Homo sapiens: one gene and its partner. The protein of the gene in region 2 purifies or fractionates together with the protein of the main gene of each other region. This does not show direct contact. Each region holds a gene or a part of one and is shown on either strand. Other genes may lie near its edges.

Region 1 (16,344 bases), on a different chromosome or scaffold from region 2:
GTTGAATATTTCCAATCTAAAAGTTGGTAATATTCTAGTAATAGGCACTCTCCTGCCAAACCAAATATCACATGGCTCTTGTGATACCTCTGTCCATGATAAGAAATGGCGTTTGCATCCCTGCTCTCTGGTTTTCTCCAACCTCTGTGTTTAGGAGCCACCAGCCAGGTTTTGATGCCTTCATTTCAAGAGTTTTAAATGAACCTAAAATAAAAAGAACAACATTACATTTGCAAAAATTAACAAGTAAATATTGTGGTTGATAGTTCTCTAAGAATCCTAAAATTCCTGCTTCACAAGAGGCTTTCAAATAGAATTTAACCATTTTTCTTTAGGTAGGACTGAAAGTATAACAGATAAAAACAAAACAATAACAACACATACACAGAGATAACTAAAAAAAATTTTAAATCACCACCACACCTCACTAGAAGAAACTTTCACTTATCTAAATATAATGTTACAAATTAACTCACATACAATACAGCTTCACAGTCCTAATTATCAAAGTGACCTCGAATGACATCATTGGGCTTCAAAAATATCATACATGTTTCCTTTCCCTCTTTTCATTTTTGCTTTTTTCTCTTTTTTATATAAGAAAATAAAAATAAAACCTTCTTCCTCCATGTTTTCAAGTTTTCCATAAAGCTTACATATTTGAATAGAGATTTACATAAATTGCTCAGAAAAAACACTGAAAGAATGAGATTTCTAAAACCTCTGGCTATCCATTCTGGTATTTAACATTACCCCCTGGCAGTTAATATTTAAATTCTGTTGACTATAATTTATGACTGTTTCCCAGATTGTGGGTGAAAATGAATAGATATGATTATCTTCCTCAAACACACTGAAAAATGTCTCCAGTTTTCCTCTCTCCAATGCAGGTATTTAGGTTTGCAGATTTAGAGACACCAGCCAATCCTAGCTTCTCAGTCTGTCTGCAGGCTGATAGGAAGGATGACTGATCTTCTAATACTTGATGAAAAGATGAGTAAATTTGACTGAATCTCTTCTGTCTCTGATTTTAATACAATAAATTATCTATTAATTATTATATTAATTAATTAATATGATATTAATATAATACAATTAATACTCTCTAGATGTATTAGTGAGTTACTGGCATGTGAAAAACCAATAAGAACCCTCTTTTTTTCCCTGCTCTTAATCAAACCAGTCCATTTGGACTTCTGTGCCTGCATCTGAGGCAGATTCACACAACGTCACCCAAAGTGCTGTCGAGGGGCTGCCTTCACTAACTCCTCAGGCAGCATGTGTTAGGTTGGTGCAAACTATAATTGCGGTTTTTGCCATTACTTTTAATAGAAGGCAAAATAGAAGGAAGGCTGCTTGTTAAAAATACAGACTCCTTGGAATTCTGCCCAAAATCTACTTTAAAGTCTCTGAGAACAAAATCCCTCTGCCTTCACATCTGCATTTTAACTGACTTCCTAGGTTTTTATACTGCTGCACAAGTAGATACACTTACAAACAACTCATTGGCACAGAAACATCCCTTCTGTATAATTGTAGACTGTTTAAATCTACATTTATCTTTATTTTGCACATGAAAAGTTCTAAATACCTTTGTTATTCTTTAACTTTTATTATTATTTTTTAAAAATGTTTTCCTCTTCAAACAGTCTATAAGTCAGTTTAAGAATGTGATTCCTGGAGTCACTTGCCCAAAGATATTAGGGTGATAGGGCCTAGAAGAGGAGCAGAACTGAAGAATCTGGAAACCCTCCCAGCAGAGATAGCTGTAGCTGCCTGAGCCCTGTGGGATTCATTTTTTCATCTGCTTAAGACCTCATCTGTATGACACACAGTGGCTTGGGAGAAACTGCATGTTATGTTGCAACTGAGTTGGGTCACACATTTAGCCTGTGTGGTGCTGCAAATAGTTCATAAATTAGGTGACATTTTTGTACTCCGTATATACTTTGGGTCTATGGGTTTGCCTAGGCTCTATGCCAGAACCCTGTGTTCTGACCCCTTAGGAAGTATATGCACAAGGAAGAAATGAGAAGGAGTTACAGATTGCCTTTTCCCTGTATTTCTTAGCAGGGACCTCTTCCCATTACCCAATCTTTACCAGGCAGAAGGGGCCAGACCCCTAACTGGTGCTGTTTATTGCCATTTTCCAGCAAGGTCTGGCCGTGAAAGTGAACCACGTGAATGTCTTGGGAGCCGCCTATGTTCAGCAGGTGTAACCTCACCCACTCTTGCTCATACATTTTCAGGCCAGGCAAGCTGTAGATCATCCCATTAATGGCTGAAAGGACAAAGAGTTGAAATCAATTAAAAATCTGTTGACACAGAGAGGGCGAGTGGTAAGGAAATATGGGGCAACCCACTCAACACCCATGTTCCTCATGATTCTGCATTCCCAGGCCTACCTAGCCATGGAAAGGGCCCTCTTGTATGTCACATTAGTGAGAGGCTAAAGCAGAACCACTAGTCCTTCTCATATCATTCACACCAGCCTACAGCAGAAGGCAGGGGGAACTCCCTTTCCAAGCAGTTTATCACTCTTTTCCTCAGCTTTTACAGTTCCGTGCTTTACCCGTGTATACTTTCCATTAACAGTCTTAATTTTCCTTAACTACAAAAGATAAATACAAATATGGGCAGACAAAGTAAACTCCAGGGATTAGAGTCAGCAAGGAGATATGCAGCATGTCACCTTAAGGCCTTCTAAATTCAGAGAAAGTTTCAGGCAAATTAGGAAGTCTAGGAGTTTATAAAATTAGGAGTTTATCGTTGGTGTATCCAGCAACCATAGCAAGTCATGTTTATTCTCTTATTGGTATGACAACTCCTCTGCCCACTTCTCAGATTAGATAACTAGGGTTCTCAGGCTTTATCTACTCTCCCCACAGTAAAATACGCGGATTTTTTAAAAAGTTCCTGAGAAACTTGATCACCTTAAAAATGTAACACAAAACTGTAAAGATAAAGTTTAGTGTTACCAAACGTTTAACTGAAACCAAAGTGAAGGAAGTGCTTTGTTTCCTCCTTCTTAAGTTAGAGGAACTGCTGTGAAATTTCAGAAACCAGGCAGGTGAATTTTTGGAGAGGGACGGGTTGAGATCATTTGGGCATCCTTCAAATTATATCAGGCGTGAGAACACCTATCTACATATTCATAACACAAGCTCGTACCTTTCTCTTCTCAGTTTCTGTTTCAGTTACTAGCTTACAGGGCAAATTTTCCTTGTGAATTTCCAAATAGGCACACTTTTCCCAGTGTGACCACCCAAATGCTCTCTTGCCACTATTCTCCTATTACCTGGGTACCTAGTTTCTTATCTCATTTTGTTCTCATATGCTTTGGGTGCCACCTGGTAGCTGCTGAGAGCTAAAACTGTTAGCGTCATTCTTATTTTAGAAAAGACACACAGGTGATCATTTCTTTTATATAAACACTTGTGCCTTTAGAGATCCAGAAACAAGCTTATTAACTTTAAATTGCAGAACAATGTTAATTCCTTTTCAATGTATGTTACCAGCTGAAGCACACTGGCTTTTTGTTGTTGTGGTTTTCTGTTGGTTTGTTTTGCAGCAGCTTCTCTGTGCTATCTTTCAGACTTTCTCTTTTTGCCTCACCCACAGTGTCACCTGCCAGATTACATCAGCCCTCTGGAATGTTAAGGAACCGGTTTTAGTTGTAGCTCTGGGTGTCTCAGAAGCATCTCATGTCTAATCTTGTGAATATCTAAGGGCAGAAATCACTGTGACCCAGTGTGATTTAATTAGGAGATTAGATCAAAGTCTGAGGAAAATACCGTGAAACTCATGGGATTTTTTCATTTCTGAGGATGTGAGTCTCCAAGAACTTCGGGACTTCTTTTCATAGTACCAGCTCTTCTTTTCATCAAAGGTCATAAATAGTAAGACAAATTCTCTCATGTCCATAGGCATGTTGCTGTCCTTATGTAGTATTCCTTTTTGGCAGATTAGGAGGGGACCTATCAAGCCTGAGTGAATATCTTTTTCCTGGAAAAACAGAGTAAATTGTATTGCCTCTTTCTCAGGAATTTCCTTGCTCTTCTGATAATCACTCATCATATAGAAAAGGAAACTTTCTGATAGGCTCTGAATTTGAAGATGAAGATTATAAATGAATGGCATAATAAGCCTGGATATTTATCACCTAATTCTGTTGTATTCATAATCCTCCTTCCTCTGATTGATCTTTATCCCAGTAACAATGATGATAATAATAAATTGATAATATAAGGGATACTATTTATTGAGAATCTATTACTATATTAAATGATTTGCCTGCAATCTCCCATTTAATCCTGACAACTATCTTATATGGTAAATATAAATTCATTCATTGAACAAATATTTACCAAGTGCTTACCATGCACTATGTACTGTTATCTCATTTTTAACTTCTGATACCAGGCTAAGAGAGGTCAAGGAATTTCCTAGGATTATGCATTGACAGGGTAAAAATTTAAATCTGAGTCTGTGCTCTTTCCACTATGCCTGAAATGGAGGAGTTGTTTCTCTTTTTAATTGACAGATAAAATTGTATGCATATACTGTGTATGACATATTGTTTTGAAGTATATATACATTGCAGAATGTCAGATAAAGGAGTCTTGACTTTGCAGTTCTTTTCATAAAGAAAGAGCAGAACATAGCTAATACTTGTTCAAGAAAATTTCAAATAAATGCCATCTTCTGTAAATGTAGGCATTCTAATTCATGGCCAATCATTCAAGTAATCTTTCCTCCTCTCCACTGAATAAATGTTTCTCTCTCTGTCATCTGAAGAGCTGCATGGAGAGTCCCTGGTTATGATAAATGCAGACTGTTAACCACACCCTTATGCATTCCTCATGAAAAGCAAGACAGACATTTGACAAGAAATAACCCCGACTCTTCCATTTGGTGGACTTCAGATTACGAGGTTAGGGGAATGAGAAAAACTTTCAATGAAAGTACCTACTGGGTTCACAGCTGAGTAGTAGGCCCAAGCCCGACAGGCAGAGCCAGGACTTTCTGGCCCTGATCGCTCAGTGGCATGCCATACGTAGGTATAACTGCTATTTGGCTGAACAGCATTATCTTCCTTAAACCATTCAGGAGAGTCATCTTCATAAGTCTTTCCCTCTGATGATTTTTCATAGGAAAGTCCATGGGCATGTAGAGAATACGGTCTGGATGCTAAATTTTTAAAACGAACCTAGGAAAAGGAATGATCCACAAATGTACTTAAGCTTAACAAAAATCTAAACCACAAAAATGTCAGCATTATAAGTCAAAATGGCTGGTTATAAAATCGGAGCTAAGATATAAGGTACAAAATAACTTATGTATATTATTTCATTTAATTTTCATAACCATCCTGTGAGATATGGCCCAAGTAGTTTTCTCCAGAAATACCAAAAGATATTTGTTCTTAGGCTCAAGGCTAAAGTACTGACATTATCTACTAATGAAATGAGAGTGATAGGTAGTGGAGATGTGAAGATGAAAGAAGCTTGATTCTTGTTCATAAGAAGCTTTTAAGCTCCTGCTGAAACAGACATGCACATGGGCATCCACACTACAAATCTGGAGACAACAGGTGCTATATACAAAGTCTAAGTGGGTTCAGATGACAATGCCCTGGAGGAACAATTTGGTTGAATATTTAGGAGTGGTTGGAAGAATTAAGGTAAGTTTCTTAGAGGAAATGGAATTGGCCATCATAGAATGAACAGGAGCTAGAAAGACATTTCAGACTCTCAGAAGGGCAGAAGGATGCCTGTGAGCAGGGGAGTAAAGGAAGAGTTTGGGGAATAGCAAGGATCTCGGTGGAACTGGGCTGTGAAATGCACAGGGACAGGTGGAACCTGGTGAGAAATGAGGCTAGAAAAGGAGCAGGTTGGGGCCAGATGGTAAAGGACTTAAATGCCATATGAGAAGTCTTCACACCCCAGCAGTCAGACCCATGAAGCTCCTCCCAGCCCTTCTATAACTTCTAGTGATTAAAGACTCCCTAATTGTCTGTTCCTTATTTTATTCTACAAAGCCAGCATCACCCTAATAACAAAACCTGGCAAAGACACAATGAATAATGAAAACTACCGGCCAATATCTCTGATGTACATAGACACAAAAATCTTCAACAAAATATTGGCAAACCAAATCCAGCAGCAAATTAAAAATTAATTCATCACAATCACATAGGCTTCATTCCTAGGATGCAAAGTGGCTCCACATATGCAAATCAATAAATGTGATTCACCACATAAACCGCATTAAAAACAAAAACAGTATCATCATCTCAATAAATGTGGAAAAAGCTTTTGATAAAACCTAACATCCCTTCATGATAAAAACCCTCAACAAACTAGGCATTGAAGGAACATACTTCAAACTAATAGGAGCCATCTATGACAAACCTACAGCCAACATCATACTGAATGAGCAAAAGCTGAAAGCCTTCCCCGTGAGAACTGGAACAAGACATGGATGCCCAATCTCATCACTCTTATTCAACATAGTACTGGAAATTCTAGTCACAGCAATCAAGCAAGAGAAAGAAATAAAAGGCAACCAAAGAAGAAAAGAAGTTAAAGTATCTCTCTTCATTGGCAATATGATTCTGTACCTAGAAAACCCTAAAGACTCCATGAAAAGGCTCCAGGAACTGATAAATGACTTCAGTAAAGTTTCAGGATGCAAGATTAATGTACAAAATCAATTATACAAAATAAAATGTACAAATGTACAAAATAGCATTTCTATACATCAGTAATGTTCAAACTGAGAGCGAAATCAAGAACGAAATCCCATTAAACATAGCCACACACACATACAAAATACCTAGGAAAACATCTAACCAAAGAGGTGAAAGATCTCTATAAGAAGAATTACAAAACACTGATGAAAGAAATCATAGATGACACAAACAAATGGAAAAACATTCTATGCTTATGTATTGGAAGAATCAGTATTGTTAAAATAGCCATTGTGCCCAAAGCAATCTACAGATTCAACACTATTTTTTAACAACTACTGGAATCATTTTCCTCAGGATTAGACAAAGCTATTCTAAAATTCATATGGAATCAAAAAAGAGCCTGAATAGCCAAAGCAATCCTAAGCAAAAAGAACAAATCTGGAGGTATCACAGTACCTGACTTGAAACTATACTATAAAGTTACAATAACCAAAATAGCATGGTACTGATACAAAAACAGACACATAGGCCAATGAAACAGAATAAAGAACCCAGAAATAAAGCCACACACTTACAACCACCTGAACTTTGACAAAGTCAACAACAACAGCAACAACAACAACAAAAAACAAGGGGAAAAGGACTCATATTTAATAAATGGTGCTGGAATAGCCGGCTACCCATATGTGGAAGAATGAAACTGAACCCCAATGAATCCAATGAAACTGGATTCATCATATACAAAAATTAACTCAAAATGGATTAAAGATTTAAATGTCAGACCTCAAACTATAAGAATCCTAGAAGAAAAACCTAGGAAACACCATTCTGGATATCAGCCTTGGGAAAGAATTTATGACTAATTCCTCAAAAGCATTTCAACAAAAGCAAAAATTGACAAATTAAACTAAAGAGCTTCTGCTCAGCAAAAGAAGCTATCTACAGAGTGAACAGACACAGAATAGAAAAAATATTCACAAAGTATGTATCTGACAAAGGTCTAATATCCAGAAACTATAAGATAGTTAAACAATTGAACAAGCGAAATACAAATAACCCCATTAAAAAGTGGGCAAAAGACATGAACAGATACTTATCAAAAGAAGACATACAAATAGCCAACAAATGTGAAAAAAATGCTCAACATCACTAATCATCAGAGAAATGCAAATCAATACCACAGTGAAATACCATCTCACACCAGTCAGAATGGCTATTAGTACAAAGTCAAAAAATAGATGCTGGTGAGGCTGTGAAGAAAAGGGAATGCTTATACACTGCTGCTTAGAATGTAAATTAGCCACTGTGGAAAGAAGTTTGGGGGTTTCTCAAAGAATTTGAAACAGAACTACTATTTTAAGGGAGGAGACCACCCCTCATATTGTCTTATGCCCAATTTCTGCCTCCAAAGAAAGAAGAAGTAAAAACTAAAAGGCAGAAATGAAATCCACAAGCAGACAGCCCGGCGCCACACCCTGGACCTGGTAGTTAAAGATCGACCCGTGACCTAATCGGTTATGTTATCTATAGATTACAGACATTGTATAGAAAAGCACTGTGAAAATCCCTGTCCTGTTCTGTTCTGTTCTAATTACTGGTGCATGCAGCCCCCAGTCACGTACCCCCTCCTTGCTCAATCAATCACGACCCACTCACGTGGACCCTCTTAGAGTTGTGAGCCCTTAAAAGGGACAGGAATTGCTCACTCGGGGAGCTCGGTTGTTGGAGACATGAGTCTTGCCAAAGCTCCCGGCTGAATAAAGCCCTTCCTTCTTTAACTTGGTGTCTGAGGGGTTTTTGTCTGTGGCTTGTCCTGCTACAATTTGACCTAGCAATTCTATTACTGGGTATATAGCCAAAAAAGAAAATAAATTGTTCAGCCGGGCGCAATGGCTCATGCCTGTAATCCCAGCACTTTGGGAAGCTGAGGCAGGCAGATTGCCCGAGGTCAGGAGTTTGAGACCAGCCTGGCCAACATGGTAAAACCCTGTCTCTACTAAAAATACAAAAATTAGCTGGGCATGGTGGTGGGTGCCTGTAATCCCAGCTACTCGGGAGGCTGAGGCAGGAGAATTGCTTGAACCTGGGAGGCAGAGGTTGCAGTGAGTTGAGATCATACCTCTGTACTCCAGCCTGGGCGACAGAGTGAGACTCCATCTCAAAAAAAAAAAAAAGAAAGAAAGACAGAAAATACATTGTTCTACTGAAAAGACACATGTACTAGGATGTTCATCACAGCATTATTCACAGTAGCAAAGACATGGAATCAATCTAGGTGCCCATCAGTGGTGGACTACATAAAGAAAATATGGTACATATGCACCATGGAATACTACGCAGCCATAACAAAGACTGAAATCACGTCCTTTGCAACAACATGGATGCCAGCTGGAGGCTATTATGCTAAGTGAATTAATGCAGAAACAGAAAGCCAAATACCACATGTTCTCACTTATAAGTGGGAGCTAAACATTGGGTACTCATGAACATAAAGATGGCAATAAACACTGGGGACTTCTAGAAGGGGGAAGGAAGGAGATGAGCAAGGGATGAAAAACTATTGGGTACTATGCACGCTACTTGGATGATGGGATCAATCATACCCTAAACAACAGCATCACATAATATACCCAGATAACAAAACTGCACATATGCCCCCTGAATCTAAAATAAAAGTTAAAATTATTTTAAAAATACACAAATGAAGTCATTTTTATCTAGTGAAATCCAGGGCTAAAACAAAGATTCAGTATTTGATTTTTTTCCTTTTGCCTAAGGCTCCAGTATGTCTCAATGCAACATTGTTACTTATCCTGTCTTTATTCACAATTGTGAGGTTTTGTTTATTGTGGCTTTCGTGCATTAATTTTGATTTTTAAATTTTTTAAAAAACTTCAGTTGCTTTAGGAATGCAAGTGGTTTTTGGTTACATGGATGAATTGTATAGTGGTGAAGTCTAGGATTTTAGTGTACCTGTCACCTGAGTAGTGTACCCTGTACCCAATAGGTAGCTTTTCATCCATCCCCCGTTCCCTTTTGAGTCTCCAATGTCCATTATACCAATCTGTCTGCCTTCGCATACCCGCAGTTTATCTCCCATTTGTAAGTGAGAACATACAGTGTCTGGTTTTTGATTCCTGAGTTACTTAGAATAAGTTTTTTAAATATTGTGTTAAATTATCGTTCATCTTGAAAAAGGATCCCCTAATCATAAAAGAGAATATTGCCTCCCATAGCTTCATGGAAAATTTAGAATAATTAAGATTCTTATATCCCTATGTACTTGTTTACGTTTTTAAAAAGAGCAAATGGTCACTGAAAATGTAGTGAATGCTTACACAGGTATAGTAGATTATATTTTAAAATCTAGAATAGCTTACTTTAGAATCAGGGTTCTTTCTGGGTTTTTGAATGTGAGCGGTTAGCAAAAATGGCGGAAGTAAACTTTGTTATAAAAGCAAGTTATAATCGTGGGTCTGGACACAAGATTTTGAAAGAAATTACCAGAACTAGGAAGACACTGAAGAAACTTGCTCACTTTTGGAGGGCATGGAGACATCTTTACTTTCCTTACTCATTTTATTTAACTTCATTTTATTTAATTTTTAGGAAAACACCTGAAGATATTTCTAAATTACTATTACTACTAGCACTGCTACTGCCACCACCACCACCACTGCTATGAAACCCAATTCAATTGCTCTTGAATATATTAATTTTCTGTGTTAACTTTAGATAGGTTAGCTTTAGATAGAAATTACAGAAAGATTTTCCACAGATTATATAGTTTTCAGCATTTAAAAAATGAGATCTTTTTTTTTTTTAGTTCGAAGATTGCCAAATTGCTTGGCAAGGAGTCTTTGAAAAGAAATGTAATTATTCATTAATCCTGGAAAACAAACAAATCACCTATAGCTCTCTTGCCACCTGCACCTTTACAACCCTCTGGTGCTTGTGGAAATTCCTCCGAAGATCTTAGCAGTGCTCAAAAGACTTACTTGGATAACATCATCCACTTCAGCTCTGATAATAGGACCAAGAATTCCGAGATGCTCTTCATACTCCCCTCGAGGATCACGTTTGGTAAAAGTGCTGTCGAGGTACTTTCGAAAAACTACTTTCTTATATGTGGTATCTTCTGGAATATCATCAGAGTCTTCAATATCTGTTTCCCTGAAATAATAATACTATTTGTGTAAAAGAAGAAATTAAAGACTGTTCCCAGAATTTAGGAAATTGTCTCTTTCTAAATATAGCATCTAGCATAGAGAAGGTCTTTAATAAATACTTGGTGGATAAATGAGTAAATATATAAGTGGATAAAAACAAAAGCCAGTAAATATCTTTCAATTCCTAACTCAAATATTATTTTATAGGTAAGTCTTCCTATGACCTTTTAGACTAGGTCAAGTCTCTATATCAATTTCTCATATTTCTATAGTATTATTATAGTATATATAGTAAATTCCTGTAGTATTCTTATAATATCTCTAGAATATATATTGTAGATTATATATAATTTATTTGTGAGATTATCTATTAATATCTGTCTCTCACTGGGTATAAGTGCCATGAGGTCAGCCATTGTGCCTAGTTTGCTCATAGTACTCTCTCCAGTGGTAAGCACATTATCTGACACACAGCAGGAACTTAATAAATTTTTGTCAAACATATAAATGAATGTATAAATATAATCGTATGTTAACACACCAAATTTTAAGATCAAAGGCAGACAAAGCCATGTAATGGGACAGTGCCAGAGCTTGGGGCTATCAGGTGACAATGGTCAGATTAATTAGAAGGTCACACTTATGAAAGTCACTGGATGGGTGAATGTTTTGTACCCTAAAAGTAGCCACTCTTCTCACATTTGTTTTTTGCTAATGTCCATTATTCTTAAGCTTCTTGACATTGGTGTGGACAAAGATTTTTTGGATTTGACCTCGAAAGTACAGGCAACAAAAGCAGAAATAGACAAATGGGATTGCCATCAAACTCAAAAGTTTATGCACAGCAAAGGAAATAACAGAGTGAAGAGACAACCTTTGGAATGGGAGAATATTCTTGAAAACCAGATATCTGATAAGAATATTAATATTAAAAATATAAGGAACTCAATTCAGCAAAAAACCCAAATAGCCTGATTAAAAAATGAGCAAAAGACTTGAATAGACATTTCGTAAAAGAAGACATACAAATGACCAACAAATATATGAAAAGATGCTCAACATTACTAATAATCAGAGAAATGCAATTTAAAATCACAATGAGGGCTCACCTCACACCGTTAGGATGGCTATTATAAAAATGACAAGAGATAAATGTTGGCATGGATGTGAAGAAAAGGGAACTCTTGTATACTCTTGGTGAGAGTGTAAATTAGTACAGCCATTATGGAAAACAGTATGGGAGGTTCCTTTAAAAATTAAAAATAGAATTACCACATGATCCATCAATCCCACTTTTGGGTATATACCCAAAGAAAATGAAATCAGTATGTTGAAGAGATATCTGCTGTCCCACGTTCACTGCAGCATTAGCCACATTAGCCAAGATAGGGAAGCAACCCAAATGTCTATAAACAAATGAATGGATTTCTTAAATGTGATCTACATAAACAATGAAATACTATTTAGCATTTAAAAAAAAGAAAACGAAGAAATGCCATTTGTGACAACATGACTGAACCAGGAGGTCGTTATGTTACATAAAATAAGCCAGGCACAGAAAGACAAGTACTGCAGGATCTCACTTATAATGTGGAAACTAAAAACATTGAGCTCATAGAAGCAGAAGGTAGAACAGTGGTTAACAAAGGGATACAGAGGTGGAGCATTGAGAAAATGGTCAAAAGATAAAATTCAGTTAGAAGAAATAAATTTAGAAGATCTGTTGTATAAGATGGTGACTGTAGTTAATAACAACACACTGAATTTTTAACATTGCTGAGTACATTTTAAGTGTTCTAACCACAAAAAAGTATGTGAGGTAATGCATAGGTTAATTAGCTTGATTTAGCCAATTCACAATTTATAAATATATTAAAACATCATGTTTACACCATAAATGTGTATAAAACAACAACAACAAAAAAACTGGGGTACACCCATATAATGGAATACATGCAATAACCAGATGAATCTCCAGAGAATTATACTGAGTGAAAAAATACCAGTCCCCAAAGGTTACATGTTGCCTGATTCCATTTATGTAATATTCTTGAAATGACAAAATTATAGAAATGGAGATCAGACTACTGGTTGCCAGGGAATAAGGAAGGGCTATGGTGGGAGGAAGGCAGATGTGACTATAAAGGGGTAATGAGAGGGATTTTTATGGTGATGGTGAACATTCTGTGTCTTGACAGTATCAACATCAGTGTGCTGGTTGTGATATAGTATTATAGATTTGCAAAATGTTACCCCTGGGAGAAACTGGGTAAAGAATACTCAGGATACCCAAAGGATCTCTCCGTATTATTTCTCTTGACTGTATGTGAATCTATTTTATTTTTGTTCCAAAATAAAAAGTTTAATTACAAATTATAAATAAATAAATAAAGCACATTATTTCCATCTAGTTCATTGGCTCAGTCTAGGACTGAAGCATGTCGAATTCTCCCACTGACTCTCACATTTCCCAAGCCTGTGGAAACAAGCCAAACACTCACCCATCAAACCCATAATATTTGCTATATACTGTGAGTCATCAACAGAGAATCTCCTTCTGCCTTTCTTCTGGTCTACCTCCCCTACTAATCCCATCTTTCCAGACTCTGAGCATAACATGCAAACTCACAGAACACAAGGGAGTGGGTAAAGCAACTCCGAATGCCATAAAAGTGGGTTGTGAGCCTTGAATGGAATACAAGATTTTGAAGGTGGTTCCATCCCTATTCACTCTGGACAGGCCCTGCATCTCACTCCCTCGGGGCCTTGCTTAGAAATACTCAGGTAGCTAGTTGTTCTCATGTGGTATTGAGTGCAACATTTAAATAGGAAGTCATAGGAAAAGGTGTTTTAAACAGAGTTCTAATGTGGAGATGTCAGGCATCAGATTAATGAACTCATATGCATAAGTCACACCATACATTGTGTTTGCCTACTGTAATTACACTTTGGTTTTTTAAGTGATTAGTGTAACAGCTTTAGTAAAAGCTGTGGGCATATCTAGACAGCTGATGCACAGTCATCATGCTATATCCCTGAGAATTTGTAGTTGACTAAGCCTTGCTCCTTTCCTCCTCTCTCTTCTCTTTCTGTATCTTCATCCCAGAACAAAGAGCCCAGTTCAACATGGCTTTCTACCCCTAAGCAAAACTGAATTGTAAATATTCTTTTAAAAAAGGGATTTGGATCTCTTAGAAATTCTGATCTAAACAAGTAAATGCAAAAAGGAGATTTCTACATCATATTTGAGTTTGGATTTGAGGCTAACTTCAATTAAATCATATTGATTAGCATATAGCTATGGATAGGTTGGGCTCTGCCTGGAGCAATAAGAGTCAGTAGAAACATGGGTAGTAAGAGGAGAGGACACAGAAAAATGCTTAATTACAGAATATTATAGAGTTCTCACAGTGATTGTTCTTATATTGTCCAGGGGTCATCTAAGGTAAAGAAGCAATCTTGGAATTGACAAAGGAAAAAGAACAGGCCAACTTGCAATAGGGGAACCACACTGTTCTTAGTATAATTTGCCCACAATTATCCCCCTGAATTGTAGTAGCTACTTTTTTCAGCAGTAATGGAAAAATGAGAATAAAAAAGGAGAAAACTGGCCAAACCTTTGTACAAATTCTGAATAATCCCAGGATATTTCTTCAGCAGCAATGTAATAATTTCTTCTGTTTCCATTGTTGCTGCGGAGGTACCATGCTGCAATGTTGTCAGGATCTCTGGAGGAGTTGATGTTTGTCCTAACATCAGTTTTGTAGGGGTCATCATAGGGCACATAATCAATTTCAGCATAGTCATCTTCACTGCTCTGGACCTCTTCCTTTGGAATGATCTCAATGTAATCTGTACCATCTTTACTGAGGCCCACTATAACCAGTGGATTAAATTCCTTTGATAGAAAAGTATCATTGAGAGTAGGAGATGAAGGAGATGGCATCTGACCAAGGTCTGGATAAGGAAAAGACTCATTAAATTCTTGAAGAAGCAATGACTGACTAGATTCAGAAGGGTAGAATATCTGATCAAGGTCTGGAGGAGGTGATATCTGGCTGAGATCCGGGAGAAGGGTGGTGTCACTGATGTCTGGAGAGAGAGTCACCTGGCTGAGGTCTGGGGAAAGGGACATCTGACCAAAGTTTGGGGAAAGATCTGTCTCACCAAGGTCTGGAGAAAGTGTCATCTGGTCGAGGTCTGGGGTAAGGGGAATTTGACTGAGATCTGCAAAGAGGGGCATCTCACTGAGGTCTGGGGAAAGGTTTGTCTGACTGAGTTCTGGAGAGAGGTTTGTCTGGCTGAGGTCTAGAGAAAGGGTTGTATGGCTGGGGTCTGGAGAAAGGGGCATCTGACCGAGGGCTGGGGAAAGGTTTGTTTGACTGAGTTCTGGAGAGAGGTTTGTCTGGCTGAAGTCTAGAGAAAGGGTTGTATGGCTGAGGTCTGGAGAAATGGGCATCTGACCGAGGGCTGGGGAAAGGTTTGTCTGACTGAGTTCTGGAGAGAGAGTCATATGGCTGAGTTCTGGAGAGAGGTTTGTCTGGCTGAAGTCTAGAGAAAGGGTTGTATGGCTGAGGTCTGGAGAAAGGGGCATCTGACCGAGGGCTGGAGAAAGGTTTGTCTGACTGAGTTCTGGAGAGAGGTTTGTCTGGCTGAGGTCTAAAGAAAGGGTTGTATGGCTGAGGTCTGGAGAAAGGGTTGTATGGCTGAGGTCTGGAGAAATGGGCATCTGACCGAGGGCTGGGGAAAGGTTTCTCTGAATGAGTTCTGGAGAGAGAGTCGTGTGGCTGAGGTCTGGAGAGAGGTTTGTCTGGCTGAGTTCTGGAGAGAGGGTCACCTGGCTGAGGTCTGGAGAGATGACTGTCTGCCAGACTTCATGTTCTGAGGAAGGGGACATTTGACTTATATCTGTGGGGAAGGACTTGTGACTTCGGTCATACTCAAGCATTTCACTGAGCTCTGGAGAAGAGGATCTGTGACTGGGGTCTGAAGTAGAGTGCATTTGATCAGGGTCTTGAATGGGGAATGTTTGATAGTGTTCCTCTGGGGGCACTGTCTGATAAAGACCTGGAGGACAGCTTGCCTGACCAGTGTCATTTGAGGAATTCTGATTATGGTCAGGAAGTGAGGCTATCCAGCCAAAATCCATAGAGGGCAATGTCTGATTGAGGTCTGTGGGAAGAGATGTTTCATTGGATTTATGAAGCACCAACGAATGCTTAAGTCTTCTTTCTGAAAATGTGTTGTAGGCTTCACTTCTTAGAGGGTGAAAGGTCCTCGGAGATAAAGGAGCATGGTGTGTGTGCTTCTCTTTTTTCTTTTTTCGTGTCTTAATGAGAAACTGGCTTTTCTTCAGTCTACTCTTTCCTCCATCCTGTCTTACTTGTAGAGATTTATGTCTAACTCTAGGAAACTTTGGGTGGCCACTCTGCTTTCCAGGCTTGTTGGCAAGAGGGGTGCTTTCTCCCCAAGCACGTGAGG
Region 2 (16,344 bases):
AGCGAGCTCGCAACAACGTCCTGTGGTGTGGCCCAGCGCGGGGAGCTGACCCCACCAGCTCCGCTCTCAAGCCTTCGGAGAGTCCTCTCCAGTCACTATCGTCATTCCCGCATTTCCTTTGCTAGGCTGTCCGGGCTGGGCAGCTCCCTCAGGCGGACACCCATGGCTGGCAGACCTTCCGCGCCTGCCCCTAATCTGGGCATATCACTCCCTCGGTTTTCTGAGACTCGGGACTCCTTGCCCGCTGGAGCGCAGGCCATGAATCTGGGTCCCGCACTGCGGCGCTGCACGCCGCAGCCCAGGGCTTTGGCCCCAGCCAGCACATCCGCCATCCTGCACCCCAGGTTCCGGCACGGGCTGCGACGGGGCCTCGGAACTGCTCCCAAGCGGCTGGGAAAGAACTCAGTCAGGCATGTCGGCCTGCAAAGCACCCAGGATGGGCAGTGGAGTCTGCACCGTTGACAGGCTCCTAGAGCGGCCAGGCAGAGGACTTGAGAGGGGCTGGAGGGCAGGAGGTCCTGCGGAACAGAAGTGCCCCACTCCGAAGGGAAAGTCGACCCTGCTGTTCTCTTTGCGCGGCAGTCAGTGGGGTTAGAGTTATTCGGAAGAGGACGGAGAGCCTTGGGGGATGGGTGCGCATGGCCATGTTCCACTGGAACTGCCCCCAACGCAAAACAAACAAACAAACAACAACAACAACAAAAACCGGGCTCTATGCAGGCTGGAGTTCTGCCTCTGCCTGCTTGTAGGGCATATCCCCATGCCAGTTCGAATGTTTATGGGGAGTGTAGGATCTCTTGTGGCTGGAATCCTAGAGGTCCACAGCAAGAGTGGGCTGCCTTGCCAAGGGTTGTTCAGGGCCAGGAACTGGCACTGGTGTTCCAGAACCTGAAAGGGTTCCCGGTCTCCCTTTCTGTCAGCGGGAGTGGTGCTTCCTGTCTGCGTCTATTTGGCCATCTTGTCTCTGTTGACCAAATAGCTTTTTTGAGAAGAAAAATGAAATTGATAAATCTCTAGCTAAGCCGATTAGTTTTAAAAAAAAAAGATACAATTAACACTGTCAGGAAGGAAGTGGCAATGCTAAAGATTCTACAGATATTCAAATAATTTTTAAAAATGGTATGCCAATAAATTAAACAACTTAGATGAAGCTCATAAATTCCTTGAAAGTAACCACCAAAGCTCATTGAAGAAGGAATCCTTTGAACAGCTCAACATCTAAAAAAAACTGAATCTGGCCGGGTGCGGTGGCTCACGCCTGTAATCCCAGCACTTTGGGAGGCTGAGGCGGGCGGATCACAAGGTCAGGAGTTCGAGACCAGCCTGGCCAGCATGGTGAAACCCCGCCCCTACTAAAATACAAAAATTAGAGGGACATGGTGGCTCGCGCCTGTAATCCCAGCTACTTGGGGGCTGAGGCAGGAAAATCGCTTGAACCCGGGAGGCGGAGGTCGCAGTGAGCCGAGATGGTGCCACTGCACTGCAGCCTGGGCGACAAAGCAAGTCTCCGTCTCAAAAAAAAGAAAAAAAAGAAACTGAATCTGTAGTTGAAAACCTTACTACAAAGAAAACCCTATGCCCAGATGACTTCAAGGGTAAATTGTATCAAACATTTAATGAAGAAATAGTACTAATTCTAAACCAAATCTTCCAGAAAAATTGACATTGAGAAATATTTATCTGATATTCAAATAAGGCAAAGTCATAAAGAGAAAAGAAAACTATGTTTAAAAATACTGGCCATGGCCAAGCACGGTGGCTCACACCTGTAATCCCAGCACTTTGGGGGCCTAGGCGGGCAGATCACCTGAGGTCAGGAGTTCGAGACCACCCTGGCCAACATGGTGGAACCCTATCTCTACTAAAAATGCAAAAATTTGCTGAGTATGGTGGGGGGTGCCTGTAATCCCAGCTACTCAGGAGGCCAAGGCAGGAGAATCGCTTGAACCCGGGAGACAGAGGTTGCAGTGAGCCAAGATCGCGCCACTGCACTCCAGCCTGGGCGACAGAGCAAAACTCCACCTCAAAAAAAAAAAAAAAAGTACTGGCCAGGCATGGTGGGTCACACCTGTAATCCCAACACTTTGAGAGGCCGAGGCAGGAGGATCACTTGAACCTGGGACTTCAAGGCCAGCCAGGGCAACATAAGAAGAGCCTGTCTCTTTCTCTCAAATTAAAATAATTAGCTGGGGATGATGGTGCATGCCTGTGGTCACCGTTGTCCCAGCTACTTTGGAGGCTGAGGCAGGAGGATCACTTCAGCCTGGGAGGTCAAAGCTTCAGTGACCTGTGGTCGTGCCACTGCAGTCCAGCCTGGGCAACAGAGTAAGACTCTACCTCTAAAAAACCAGAACAAAATGAACAGAAACAAAAAACCCATAAATATAGTTGCAAACATTCTAAGCCAAATTTTAACAGAAATAACCCATAATATAATACATATAACAGATCTAATCCATTAATATAATGCAATCCTAAATTGTTTTAACCTTATATAATTAATGAGTGTAATTCATGTTAAAAGACTAGAAATTTTTAACCTAAAAAAAAACAAAGAAAATACTAGATATTTTTAAAATAAAAATGTATATATAATCATCTCAATAGATGTAGAAAAATATTAGACAAAATTAACACCTATTCCTGATCAGTCCTCTAAGAATGCAAGGAACAAAAGGGAACTTCCTAAAACTGATTAAGGACGTCTATGAAACATCTACAGTTTACACCATACTTAGTGGTGCAACACTGAATGATCTCTTCTCAAGATCAATTTCAAAATAAGGATATTGTTCTCACTACTTTTATTTCTCATTGAACGGGAGGTTCAGGCAAGGAAAAGAATAAAAGCATTGGAAAGGAAAAGATAGAAGTGCTTCCGCTGGCACACAGAATGATTATTTGTGTAGAAAATCTGATGACATCTACAAAAAAAGTTACTAGAAGAAACAAATAAGTTTATCAAGGTTTCAGAATATAAGGTGAATATTTAAAAGTCTATTATATTTCTCCATACTAGCAATAAACAGTTGGAAATTAAAATTATCAATGATAATTCCCATGTACAGTAGCGTCGAAACTATGAAGTATATATGGTAAGCTAACAAAATATGTAAAAATATCTGTAAGAGAAAACTGCAAAACATTGCTCAGAGAAATTTTAAAATACCTAAATAAATGCAGAGACATACTTTATTCAAGAGTCAGAAAAATCAATATTTTTAAGGTTTCAATTCTGCCCAAATCGATTTGTAGATTCAATGTAATCACAATCAGAATTCCAAAAGAGTTTTTGTAGAAATTAGTGAGCCAATTCAAAAATCAATATGGAAAATATAGTGACATAGCTCAGCCAATGTAACTTTGCAAAAGAAAAATAAATTTGAAGGACTGTCACTGCATGATTTTAAGATTTATTATAAAACTACAGTATTCAAAATAATGTGGTGGTGGTGTATAAATACGCAAATACAAAAATACAACAATCAGTGGAATAAAATAGAGAGTTTAGAAATAATCCCATGAATATACAGACAACTGATTGGTGATAAAGGTGCAAAAGCAATTTAGTAAAGAAAAATAGTCTTTTCGACAAATTTACATTTGTCGAATTAATCCCAAATAAATCATAGACCTCAGTATAAAACCTGAAGCTATAAAATGTCTAGAAAAAAATAAAGGAGAAAATTTTTGTGACCTTGAGTTAGTCAATGAGTTCTTACAAACCACAGCAGAATAATAAAAATGGACTTCATTAAAATAAAAAACTTCTGCTTTATGAGTATATTGTTCAAAGAATGAAAAGACAGGCTGGGCGGTGGCTCACACCTGTAATCCTAGTACTTCGGGAGGCCAAGGCAGGCAGATCACTTGAGGTCAGGAGTTCAAAACCAGCCTGGCCAACATGGTGAAACCCCATCTCTACTAAAAATACAAAAACTTAGCCAGGCATGGTGGTGGGCACCTGTAATCCCAGCTACTTGGGAGGCTGAGGCAGGAGAATCACTTGAACCTGGGAGGCGGAAGTTGCAGTAAGCTGGGATTGCACTACTCCAGCCTGGGCAACAGAGTGAGACTCCCTCTCAAAAAAAAAAAAAAAAAGACAAGACAAGAAAAACATTTCAAGATGCATATCTGATAAAAGGTTTTTATCCCAAATATATAAAGTTCTCAAACTCAACAGTAAGAAAAATAAACCAAGTAAAAATTCTCAAAAGATTTATACAGTTACTTTATCAAAGTTACCTAATACAGATGGTAAATAAGCTTATAAAAATTTGCCTGGGGCGGTGGCTCACGCCTGTAATCCCAGCACTTTCAGAAGCTGAGGTGGGTGGATCACCTGAGGTCAGGAGTCTGAGAACAGTCTGGCCGACATGGTGAAACCCCGTCTCTGCTAAAAATACAAAAATTAGCTGGAAGTGGTAGCGGGCGCCGGTAATCCCAGCTACTTGGGAGGCTGAGGCAGGAGAATTGCTTGAACCCAGGAGGCGGAGGTTGCAGTGAGCTGAGATTGTGCCACTGAACTCCAGCCTGAGCAACAAGAGCGAAACTCTGTCTCAAAAACAAACCAACAAACAGAAATTTGTAGGATACACAGATTAAAACTATGAGGATATACCATTCGATATCTACTAGAATCATTAAAACTATAAGACGAACCATATGAAATTCTGGCATGGATGAGATGGAACTGGAGCACTCATACACTGCTGGTAGGAATGAAAAATGGTACAACTTTGGAAAAGAGTTTGTCAGTTTCCTAAATAGTTAATCATACACCTACTGTGTGATCCAGACGTTATACTCCTAAGTATTTAACCAAGAGAAAAGAAATCCTATGTTCATACAGACTTGTACACAAATGTTCACAGCAGCTTTATTTGTAATATCCCAAAACTAAAACAACCCAAATGTCATCAACAAGTAAATGGGTAAATGAATTGTGGTATATCCATACAAGGGAATATTCAACATTTAAAAGAATGAATTCATACGAGCATCAAGATGGAGACATATGAATCTCAAAATAATTATGCAAAGTGAAAGAAGCCAGACAAAAAAAAAAGACATACTATATGATTCCATTCACATAAAACTACAAAATGCAAAATGAAAGCCGATTGGTGGTTTTCTGGGGAGGAGTCATCAGGAGGAGCATTGTGACACTTTGAGGGATGATGGATATGTTCACTCTCTTAATTGTAGTATGCATGTTCTCCACAAGGTGTGAAAACTTATCAAATAGTACACTTTAAATATGTTCAGTTTATTTTATGTTAATTATATCTCAATAAAGCTTTTAACAAAAGCAAACATCTCTTGCCTACATAAGGATGACACAGCTCTTAAAAAAAAAAAAAGATTCCTGCTAGATTGTGTGCAGCAAAATAAAAAGGCTTCCTTTAAAGTAGAATAGCCTGTGAAGAGTGGGTGGAAAGGAAATAGAAGCCTAAAAATAGAAGATATATTTCTAATTCCATCTGTTTCTATTCAGCGATATTTGCATACCTGGCTTAGTTTGTTCTAGATTGAGTGTCTTCATTTTTTTTGTCTTGTATGTTTCGGAATTATAGCATAGCAAAACAGAGTTGAGAAGAGTTCATCTACAAAAGGTATGTTCTTTAGGGAAAGAAATTCTATTCTTACCTCTGGGCCACACATCCCATGATTCTAACAAGAACTGTTGTGAAGGGTTAAATCTATTAATCTGTCCTCTGGTAGAAAAAAAAATGAAGAAATAATAACTGATTCAGGAAGTGGTAACAGGTTGTGGATTAGCTTACAGAAAAGACCACTCACTTACTAATTACTTTCTTGGGCTCCCCACTTGTCCCAAAATGTGTGTGTGTGTGTGTGTGTGTGTCTGTCTGTCTGTCTGTCCGTAAGTGGTAGAGTCTGGAGATGGACCACAGTTTAAAAACCAAGGATTGATACCTTTTTTAAAGTTAAGAACATGAGTTTCTTGATTTCGGAATGGCCTCTGTCCTTCTTTGTTTCTTCACGTGCACTTTTTCCCAGACATATTTCCCCTTTTTGCTCTCTGCCTGCACTTGAGCAAGTTCTCCATGTTCTGTCTTTCATGCAATTTTAGGAGTGTGAGGGGAAGGTGATAATGAGGTAAAGAAGACTGAGTTCAGAGGGTTTTCAAGCTTGAAGAGGAGTCAAATTTTAAAATAAAAAGGGGAAAATGGACTTCAGGCTGGCAGGGAAGCTTGGGACAAGCTAGGTGAAATAATACAGGTAGCTAGAATCAAAAATGTTGACATAAAGGTGCCAGGCTCCTGGAACCCCAGTTTCTGCAAAGGAGTTCTGCAGCCAGCTAAATGACAGTTTTCTGGGCTCTCATGTTTGGCACCCAAGTGACAAAGAATAGCTTAAATTCCAGAATAAAACTCAAAGACTTTTTTCTTTTCTTCCAGAGCCTTCAAATTCACTGTGCTCTTAGGTTTGCCTTCTTCTGACATATACTGAAGGCAGCTAAAATGCAGTTTTCCGCATAAACAGCTCCTCGTTGTATATATGCACAGGTACCTGAAGGGTATGTCTGGGAGACAGCGCCTCGGACTCTAAATCTGCAGGTAGGAAAAAACAAAACAAACCAACAAAAAAACTTAGGTTTACTGCCACCTTGTTTCAGAAACTTAGCTTTTGAAACTTTTTGTCTTAAAGCCTCCAATCAGTAATAAATGTGGGAAGGAAAACTCAAGAAAATGTCTGAATGGTTAATGAGTAAATCTTTTTGTGAAAGAGGTAAGGAAGGAGACTTTGAGAAATTCCCCCAAGCTTCTCTCTGGCAAGAAGAGGACATTGGTGGGATGCAGGCAGTGACCTCACTAGCAGGTTCAGCAAAGAATAGGAAACTGACGAGAGAGGCATCAAAAAGAATGGGAAACTTACAAGTGGGGCATCAAAGGAGAACCGTCCTCCCAGAGCCATGGGTAGCTGGGGTTCCTCCGAGACAGCCCCATCCAGAATGGAAAACTGGAATAGGAAATTGCTTGCTGGATGAAGTCCTGTGGGGAGTAATGTTTCTGAGTTTGTGGAATCCACATGGTGGTTTTAGAATCTGAAAGTCAGTTAGTGTTGGATCCACAAAACTAAAGAACCAAAAGGTATCTTTGACATCCCCTTGACTGTTTTACGGAAACACTTACTGAAGGCTAGAGATACTACAGAGCCTGTCCGTCCAAGGTCATACACAAAATTGGTGATCAGACTAAGCTAAAAAAACAGACATTTTGGCTCTCAAACAAGAATTCCTCCAGTGACAGTTTAAACCAGATTAATTTCCCTATCAACCAATACTCCACCCCAACAAATATCCATGAACACTCACCAGATCAGCTGTGCTATTAATTTTCAGCAACTTGGCATCCAAAGACAAGCACTTCTCTTGGCTCTTTTCCCAGTTAAATGAGCCCGAGGAAAATAGGTAACAGTTTTCTCCATGCCAGATCCAGTCTTGCGGACAAGGAGCTGGGAAGGATAGTATATCTCATCAGTCAGTTATGTTTGTGTAAAAGCAGTACTGCAGTTCTTAAATCAATGATCCCCTTAGTTCTCTCACGTGCATACTATTTATTTTTGTTTTTGTTTTTGTTTTTGTATTTTTAGTAGAGATGGGGTTTCACCATGTAGGCCAAGCCTCCCAAAGTAGTGGGACTATAGTCGTGAGACACCGCGCCCTGCCCACACTACTTCTTAAGTAAAATTTTACCCAGGTTCTGCAAATACCTAAATAGCCTCAGAGTCCTTATTTCTTCATTTTTTGGGAAAAAAAAGAAAGAAAGAAAGCATACTGATTTTAGCAACCTAAATGTACTTCTCATTTAGCATTTTCACTTCCCCTGATGAAAAGCAAGTTAAGCTAGCATGTAATTTTAGAAACTGATCTATTTTTTAAAGTTGTGTTGGAAATAAAGAAAGTGAGGGTTGGGAGAACAGATATTTAATAGCCATTCTGCTATTTTTAAAAAGTAATGCTATGCATTTTAAAATTTCATATCTTTGAATAATGAATCTAGGCTTAAATACTATGTGTCTTGCTTTCAGACATGTGTTGTCTAATACAGTAGCCATATGTGATTCTTGAGTACTAGAAATATAGCTAGTTTGCATTTCTTAAAACAAATTATTTTAATTGAAACAGGGTCTCGCTATGTTGTCCAGGCTGGTCTTGAACTCCTGGCCTCAAGCAATCCTCCTGCCTCAGCCTCCCAAAGTGCTGGAGTTACAGGCATGACCCACCACACCCGGCTAGTTTGCATTAAGATGTACTATAAGTGTAAAACACACAAAAGATTTTGAAAACTTAATTTGAAAAAGAAAAAGAATGTAAAATAGTCCATTAAAAATTTTTATACTGATTAGTATTGAAATAATATTTCAAATATCTTGGGTTAAATAAAATGTGTTTCTAAAATTAATTTTATCTGCTTCTTTTTCATTTTTATGTGGTTACTAGAAATTTTAATGATATATATATATATATATATAAAAAACACATACTATATTTCTTTTGTACAGAGTTGTTCTAGGGAAAATAGTATATTAATATAAAGCGAGGATCTCAATTTAAACGAGATTTTAGAAAATAAGGAGATTTTCAGTAGCAAAATTCACAGGGAGTCCACCAAACCAAAAACAGGACTTAGACAATAGGCAAAATATACCAATGTCTACATGTTTATGGATGCTTTCAGGAACCCTCAAATCATCACTATCATCACCATCATCATCATCATCTCTCCCATCTCCTTAAGGGGAAACAAAGTACTCTGGTCTACACTACAACCAAAAGGTGAAAAATTAAAATCTTTGAGAAAGGCAGCATTTTAATTTCATTCTCACTGTGGCATAAAACCACTAAATAAATGTATAAGAGTAGGCTTTATCAGAGAGGAGAAAATAGGAGGGACTGAAAAACAGAAAAAAGTGAATGAGAAAGAGCATACAAAACACTAAGTTGATTTTTCACCAAACTGATGCTTATGAAAAGAAAAAGAGACCAAGTTGAAAGCAGTCAATGCAAGCTTCTTACTTCTTAGTTTGCCTAACCCCATCATATTATGTAAATATAAATATATGTACGTTTTTGGCTGGGGGTGGTGGCTCATGCCTATAATCCCACCACTTTGGGAGGCTGAGGTGGGTGGATCGCTTGAGGCCAGGAGTTCCAGACCAGCCTGTGCAACATGGCGAAACCCCATTTCTACAAAAAACACAAAAATTCACTGGGTGTGGTGGTGTGCGCCTGTAGTCTCAGCTACTTAGGAGACTGAGGTGGAAGGATCACTTGAACCTAGGAGGTGGAGGTTGCAGTGAGCTGAGATCATGCCACTGCACTCTAACCTGGATGACAGAGGAAGACTCTGTCTCAAAAAATATATTTAGATGTATATAAGTTTTTTGTGGACTAAAAAGACAGTCTGGGCAAGTTTTCCCAGTTATGACAAAGTAAGAAGGACACATTACAAAATGTAGTATTTAAACTTACTGTATTTCTTTGTGTGTGTGTGTGTGTGTGTACACAAAAATAAACAGAGTAAGTGATATTTGTGTTTGTTAAATTATATAACAATACAAATATCACTTACTATGTTTATTTTTTATATAATTTAACAAACACAAATATCACTCACTATGTGCCAGAAACTGTTGGAAGTACTGTACAGGTATTAACTCATTTAATCCTCACAGTATCTCTGTGAGATAGGTTCCAGTCATTTTCTTCATTTGACAAATAGAGAAGAATCTGGACCTAGATAATGTAACTCTAGAGTCTGGGTGTTTCACCACTATAACATACTACCTTTCAAACTTCTAAGTTAAAACCATTTGAGGAAGTGTTTCTCGGTGCTGCTCTCGAGACATTTTGATACAGAATCTTGAGGTAAATCTGTAATCTGCCACTTTTAACAATCTATTTACATACAGTAAAGTTTGAGAATCACCACAAATTCCATTGCTAAATGTGAAGTCTATTCCTGCAAAGGCCCTGCATCTCACTAGCTCGTTGGCCTAAAGCAAACATATAATAACCTCTCAGCATCTCTCCCTCCTCATATATACATTGAAGACCACAGACTTTTTAGTAAAAAAGATAAAACTTGCCTCAAACTGGAAAAACTTGGCTTTTTTTTTTTTTCTGTATGTGGTATTTTAGTATTACTTTTTAAAGACTTCTCAAAGCTCTTTGGTGGGCCGGGCCTGGTGGCTCACACCTGTAATCCTAGCACTTTAGGAGGCCAAGGTGGGTGGATCACGAGATCAGGGGTTCGAGACCAGCCTGACCAACATGGTGAAACCCCGTCTCTACTAAAAATACAAAAATTAGCTGGGCGTGGTGGCAGGCGCCTGTAATCCCAGCTACTCAGGAGGCTGAGGCAGGAGAATTGCTTGACTCCGGGAGGCGGAGGTTGCAGTGAGCCTAGATCGCACCACTGCACTCTAGCCTGGGTGACAGAGCGAGACTCCGTCTCAAAAAAAAAAAAATGCTCTTTGATGAAAGGCAAAACTTTATTTGCTATCTCTACTAATTAGCCTTTATCTGACACTGTCAAGGAATGGAACATGTTACTTGGTATATCTGCCAGCATCAGACATATCACTTATTGTTTTTTATTAGTTGTTCATCCAGGGCATCTCTGGGAGATAGTTCTGAATGGTCCTGATGTAGATTTAATCCCATACAACTGATAAAGACAAAATTCTCTTCTGGCCTTGCCTGTGATATAAACCATTGGTTAGTACGTGGTTATGTCCGCTTTTATAAACATTCCTATCCTTAATAGATAAACTTTCTCCCTTTAAGCCTTCTTGAAGGTGGTATATTCATTTCCTTGCAAGCTCCAACTTTAAAGAGATTAAAAATGTTTGACACTTGCTAAAAATTATTTTGTTCAAAAATTTCTGCTAATTTTGAAAATGTAAATGACCTCTAAATAGTGAAGGGATTTACAAACTGCAAAACCTTACACAAAATTACTTTTTATTATCATTTCACTTTATCCGGGTCTCAGTGTTCCACCTATCAAGGAAAAGCTTAGGTATCTGTGAACTATTATTATATGCTCTTTATTCAAATAAATTATGTGGTTGAGATTAAGTAAATTGTGCAAGCAAGAAGCTAGAGAGATCTCTGTTTATTAGAGGAAGTTTTTCTCTAATCCTGACAATAGGGCACTAATTTACGCACCTCCAAGGAAACAAAGTACCTCTGAATGACTCTCTCTCACACCTTTTAACTCTCCCTATGCCTAAAACCATATACCTGATGTAATGACATACTGCAGAAAGACCAAATAATACAGTAGCTTCTGTAACAATATCAGAGTTCACATCATAGTCTTCTTATAGATGCTACTATTTCTGCCTGCCTCTGGATTCTGAGTCCCTTTAGACGGCTAAAATTAACTCATTTCTTCTTATATAAATAGACTTCTTGGACTCCTCATATTTTTGTCTAATCTGAAGTATCTGCGTAAGGCTTGCAAGCCAGTCTACCTCCATTGGCTCTATTTAAATTGATGGGCCCGGCACAGTGGCTCACACCTGTAATCCCAGCACTTTGGGAGGCCGAGGCGGGCGGATCACCCGAGGTCAGGAGTTCAAAACCAGCCTGGCCAACTTGGTGAAACACCATCTCTACTAAAAATACAAAAATTAGCCAGGTGTGGTGGCGGGTGCCTCTAATCCCAACTATTCGGGAGGCTGAGGCAGGAGAATCCCTCGAACCCGGGAGGCGGAAGTTGCAGTGAGCCGAGAATGTGCCACTGCCCTCCAGCCTGGGGGACAGAGCGAGACTCCCTCTCAAAAAAAAAAAAAGAAAATTGGCCGGGCGTGGTGGTGGGTGCCTGTAATCCCAGCTACTTGGGAGTCTGAGACATGAGAATTGCTTGAACCCTGGAGGCGGAGGTGGCAGTGAGCCGAGATCAGGCCACTGCATTCCAGCCTGGGCGACAGAGCGAGACTCCATCTCCAAAAATTGAAATCAAATAAAATAAGTTGATGTAGTACACTTTAAGAAATAATGCCACAGAGTGAGCTAATGTAGAGTTAGGGGTAGACAGTTGCAAGGACAAAAAGATCCCTTAGAAAAAGAAATACAGTGATTAAAATGCATTGGAATGGAAAGAGATAAGGATCTATGGAATGGGGTGGGGGTGGCAGAATTCTTCAAGAAAAATGTCAAAACTGCTACTAGGGAGGCTGAGGCAAGAGAATCACTTGAACCCAGGAGGTGGAGGTTGCAGTGAGCTGAGATCACACCACTGCATTCCAGCCTGGGTGTGACACAGCGAGACTGTCTCAAAAAATAAAAAAAAAGAAAGAAAAATCTCAAAACTAAAATTTTAAAAAGAAGAGGCTCTTATAAAGAAGGAAAACTTAAATCCACCAAAAGGTATGCTTAATTAAATCAGATTTTTCAAGGATTTGACACAGCATAGGGTGGTTCTGATTAAAAATTTAGAACTTCTTGCCGGGTGCGGTGGCTCACACCTGTAATCCCAGCACTTTGGGAGGCTGAGGCAGGCGGATGACTTGAGGTGAGGAGTTTGAGACCAGCCTGTTCAATATGGCAAAACCCTGTCTCTACTAAAAGTACAAAAATTAGTTGGGCATGGTGGCTCATGTTTGTAATCCCAAGCACTTTGGGAGGCTGAGGCAGGAGAACTGCTTGAACCCAAGAAGCAGAAGCTTATTGAACTGAGATCACACCACTGCTTTCCAGCCTGGGTGACAGAGCAAGACTCCGTCTAAAATTAAAAAATAATAATAAAATAAATAAAAAATTGACCGAGAGCGGTGGCTCATGCCTGTAATCCTAGCACTTTGGGAGGCCAAGATGGGTGGATCACCTGAGGTCAGGAGTTCGCGACCAGCCTAGCCAACATGGTGAAACCCTGTCTCTACTGAAAATACAAAAATTAGCTGGGCGTGGTGATGGGAGCCTGTAGTCCCAACGACTTGGGAGGCTGAGGCAAGAGAATCACTTGAACCCAGGGGGTGGAGGTTGCAGTGAGCAGAGATCACACCACTTCACTCCAGCCTGGGCAAAAGAGCGAAACTCCATCTAAAAAAAAAAAAGAAAAAGAAAGAAAAAGAAAAAGAAATTGAGAACTTCTTGTATAGAACATTATGAATGAATAATGATATGCATAACAATAGACCAATTTTGAGCCCAGAATTGTTTCCAAAAAATAGTTATGATTGGACAGAAAGCTTCCACTATGTCTCCTTACCCACCCTTCTCCCAATACCTGAACAATTTGCTACTCTCTTCAGTGTTTCTTGGAGATTCAGATTCTGGTGGTGAAGTTCCATTTGCTCTTTGGATTTCTCATTCAGCTTCCGAGCAAGGGTTTCTATCATTTCCTTGAGTTCGTTTTCTGACTCCTGTGAAGCTTCTTCTGCTTGTTGCCGGGCTGAGATCTGTCCCTCCAGTTTCTTTTTCTGGTGAGTTAGGTTTGCTTGCTCTTGTGTTAGGAGGTCAGACACCTGGGATACTGAATCACAGTTGCATTAAGACTCTAGTTCTAATCCAAATAAAAATCCCTCCAGGGACTTTTTGAGGAAATCAAAACAGAATTAAATCTATTTTGACAATAGATAAGCTGCTGAAAAATGACCCAGATTTACTCAGAAGTTACAGATTTGGAGGTTCTTGAATATTCCTGCAGTATTTTGTTTAATGTCAGGAACATTGCAAACACTTGTAATTTTTTTAAAAATTACCAAGATTTTGGCCAGGCACGGTGGCTCAGGTCTGTAATCCCAGCACTTTGGGAGGCCGAGGCAGGCAGATCACGAGGTCAAGAGATAGAGACCATCCTGGCCAACATGGTGAAACCCCATCTCTACTAAAAATACCAAAGAAATTAGCTGAGGGTGGTGGCACGCGCCTGTAGTCCCAACTACTCAGGAGGCTGAGGCAGGGGAATCACAGTGCCACTGCACTCCAGCCTGGCGACAGAGGGGGACTGTCTCAAAAAAAATAAAAAACAACAACAACAACAAAAAAAACCCAAGATTTTTTTTTATTGAGTTACAAATGAAAAGTAATCACAAGATAACCAGTACAGCATTAGAATAAATAAAATAAGGAAAACCTGAAACAGACACCCACCAGACTCAGTGACTATTAGTAGGAAATGTCATTAGCGATTTACTCTATTTATGTCTCAATTCCTCTGCTGTGTCTCCTCCCATTCTGTCTACTCTTCCAGACTTCCTAATTTTAAGAACTGTGACATACACCCCTTTTTTGAGACAGCCACGCACACTGTGTCACAAGAGTCTCCAAGAATTTTTTCTTTTCTTTTTTTTTTCCCCTTGGCCACGGTACATTTTAGGAAGGGTGAAGATAAAGTGAAGGTTGTGAAATCAAGCAGGCGATAACATGTTAAGGGTCAAATGTCTCAGTTCCTGAATTTTGATGGTGCAATACAAAGCAGACCGCTTGGTTTGAAGGCAGCTTTGATCCTGTTATAAGATGATCAAAGGCTCAAAAGATTTTTCTGGTCACCACCACTAAGTCAAGGGCACTTCTCCTTGTCACTAGGAAAGGCCCTAAGTATTTACAAATTTAAAATAAAATAGTTTGTGAGCTTGAACAACAGTTAGGAAGCAAATAGCACTTCAATGGCCATAATAACCTGGATCCTGGGTAGCCTAAACAACTCAGTTCTACAACCTAAATTCACAGGCAGTTCAGGTGAACGTTGGGCACCATTTTCTTTCCTTCTTGGCCACTCTGGGCCATCTTTTCACTTCTTTTTTTCCCTCAATATCTTCTCTTTTCTAAATGCTCTTATTATAAATGTGAAATATATTTTATTTTAAATGTTTTATTTATTAAGATTGTGTTTCTGGTTCTTAACATTAAAATGGTATTTAATTATCTCTATCAAAACTCAGCAAGCTAAATAAAATTTCTTTTACTTTTGGGCCTCTCAGATGATCTTGGATATTAGTAACTTTAAGTTATTATCTTCTCCATCATTCTAGAATTTAAATAGGCTCTATCCATGAGGTTGGTTTTTTGTTTGTTTGTTTTGTTTGAAATGGAGTCTCGCTCTGTTGCCCAGGCTGGAGTGCAATGGTGCAGTCTCAGCTCACTGCAAATTCCACCTCCCCGGTTCAAGCTATTCTCCTACCTCAGCCTCCTGAGTAGCTGGGATTACAAGCATGTGCCACCACACCCGGCTACTTTTTGTATTTTTAGTAGAGATGGGGTTTCACCATGTTGGCCAGGCTGGTCTTGAACTCCTGACCTCAGGTGGTCCACCCACCTTGGCCTCCCAAAGTGCTGGGATTACAGGTGTGAGCCACCGCACCCGGCCTATCCATGAAGTTATGAAAACAAAAGAAACAAAACAAAACAAAACAAACAAACAAAAAAATGCCTACCAATTGTAATTTTTATTTCATGGCTCTATCCATTGGAAGATGAACAATATACCCCTTTATTTTCATGGTCACTCTTAAAAACATTTTGCCTAAAATGAATCTATATCAAGGCTGTTTGTAGTTGTTATGAAAGAAACTTATAAACCATATTTATTAACCTCATTTCCAACACCCCTGCCCCAATAAACATCAGTTCCGTATTTTAGCACTTACATTGCATGCCCAGCACCATAATGGTCACTACTAATCCCAGGCAAAGGACCCCTAGAGTCGCAGCAGCCAGGCACCACCATGGAGAGTAAAGAAACTGAAGACCTAGAGTGACAGAGGATAGAATCAGAAAGACAAAAAAGAGTGAACAAGTAAGCAAACCATTCCTTGGAGCCTGTCTGTACTTGGTGATTTACTCTGTTTATGTTTTAGTAAATAGACATAAATAGTTTGCATTCCATACCACTAGTCCTCCAAATGGCTCTGCAAATAATTCATCATACACATTTAGGAATGGAAAACAGGGAGAGTTAAGGAATTTAAGTAATTTACCCATGGTCACACAGCCAGTAAATTCAGAGCCAGGATTCGATACCAGATATTTGAATCTAAATATATGATTCTAAAGCTTATACTTTATCTACTTTCCCGACAATTACTCCTCAAGAAACTCACAGTCTAGCTTGGTTGGATCAAATTCATCCACAGTGCAGAGAGCCTGAAGTTTTTAATATACACCACGTGTACACATGTGCACACAAAAGTAACATAAATATCAGACATCAAGCAAACAAGCTTTCTTCAGTTAATCAACTGAGATTACCTCAAATAACTTTATGAATAATTTTATGCTATTCAATTATGAGTCCACCAAAATTACAACCTGGAACTGGGGTTATTAATCAAAGAAAAGTAGGGATGAAACCTTGATATTAATTT

What was found.
Region 1: the proteins of OLR1 (region 2) and F5 purify together in Homo sapiens (affinity purification with mass spectrometry; 2 studies listed by BioGRID and IntAct, with this or other methods). This does not show direct contact.

The regions. Positions count from the first base shown.
Region 1 is NC_000001.11:169,525,814-169,542,157, forward strand, and holds part of F5 (coagulation factor V preproprotein), read right to left. Parts: coding exon 14,481-16,344; intron 10,868-14,480; coding exon 10,693-10,867; intron 5,210-10,692; coding exon 4,973-5,209; intron 4,006-4,972; coding exon 3,795-4,005; intron 2,282-3,794; coding exon 2,102-2,281; intron 205-2,101; coding exon 88-204; intron 1-87. UniProt on the Homo sapiens protein: Central regulator of hemostasis. It serves as a critical cofactor for the prothrombinase activity of factor Xa that results in the activation of prothrombin to thrombin.
Region 2 is NC_000012.12:10,153,447-10,169,790, forward strand, and holds the end of OLR1 (oxidized low-density lipoprotein receptor 1), read right to left. Parts: intron 15,730-16,344; coding exon 15,628-15,729; intron 13,512-15,627; coding exon 13,266-13,511; intron 7,480-13,265; coding exon 7,340-7,479; intron 7,070-7,339; coding exon of another isoform or gene 7,017-7,069; coding exon 6,901-7,016; intron 6,576-6,900; coding exon 6,434-6,575; 3' UTR 4,855-6,433; downstream 1-4,854. UniProt on the Homo sapiens protein: Receptor that mediates the recognition, internalization and degradation of oxidatively modified low density lipoprotein (oxLDL) by vascular endothelial cells.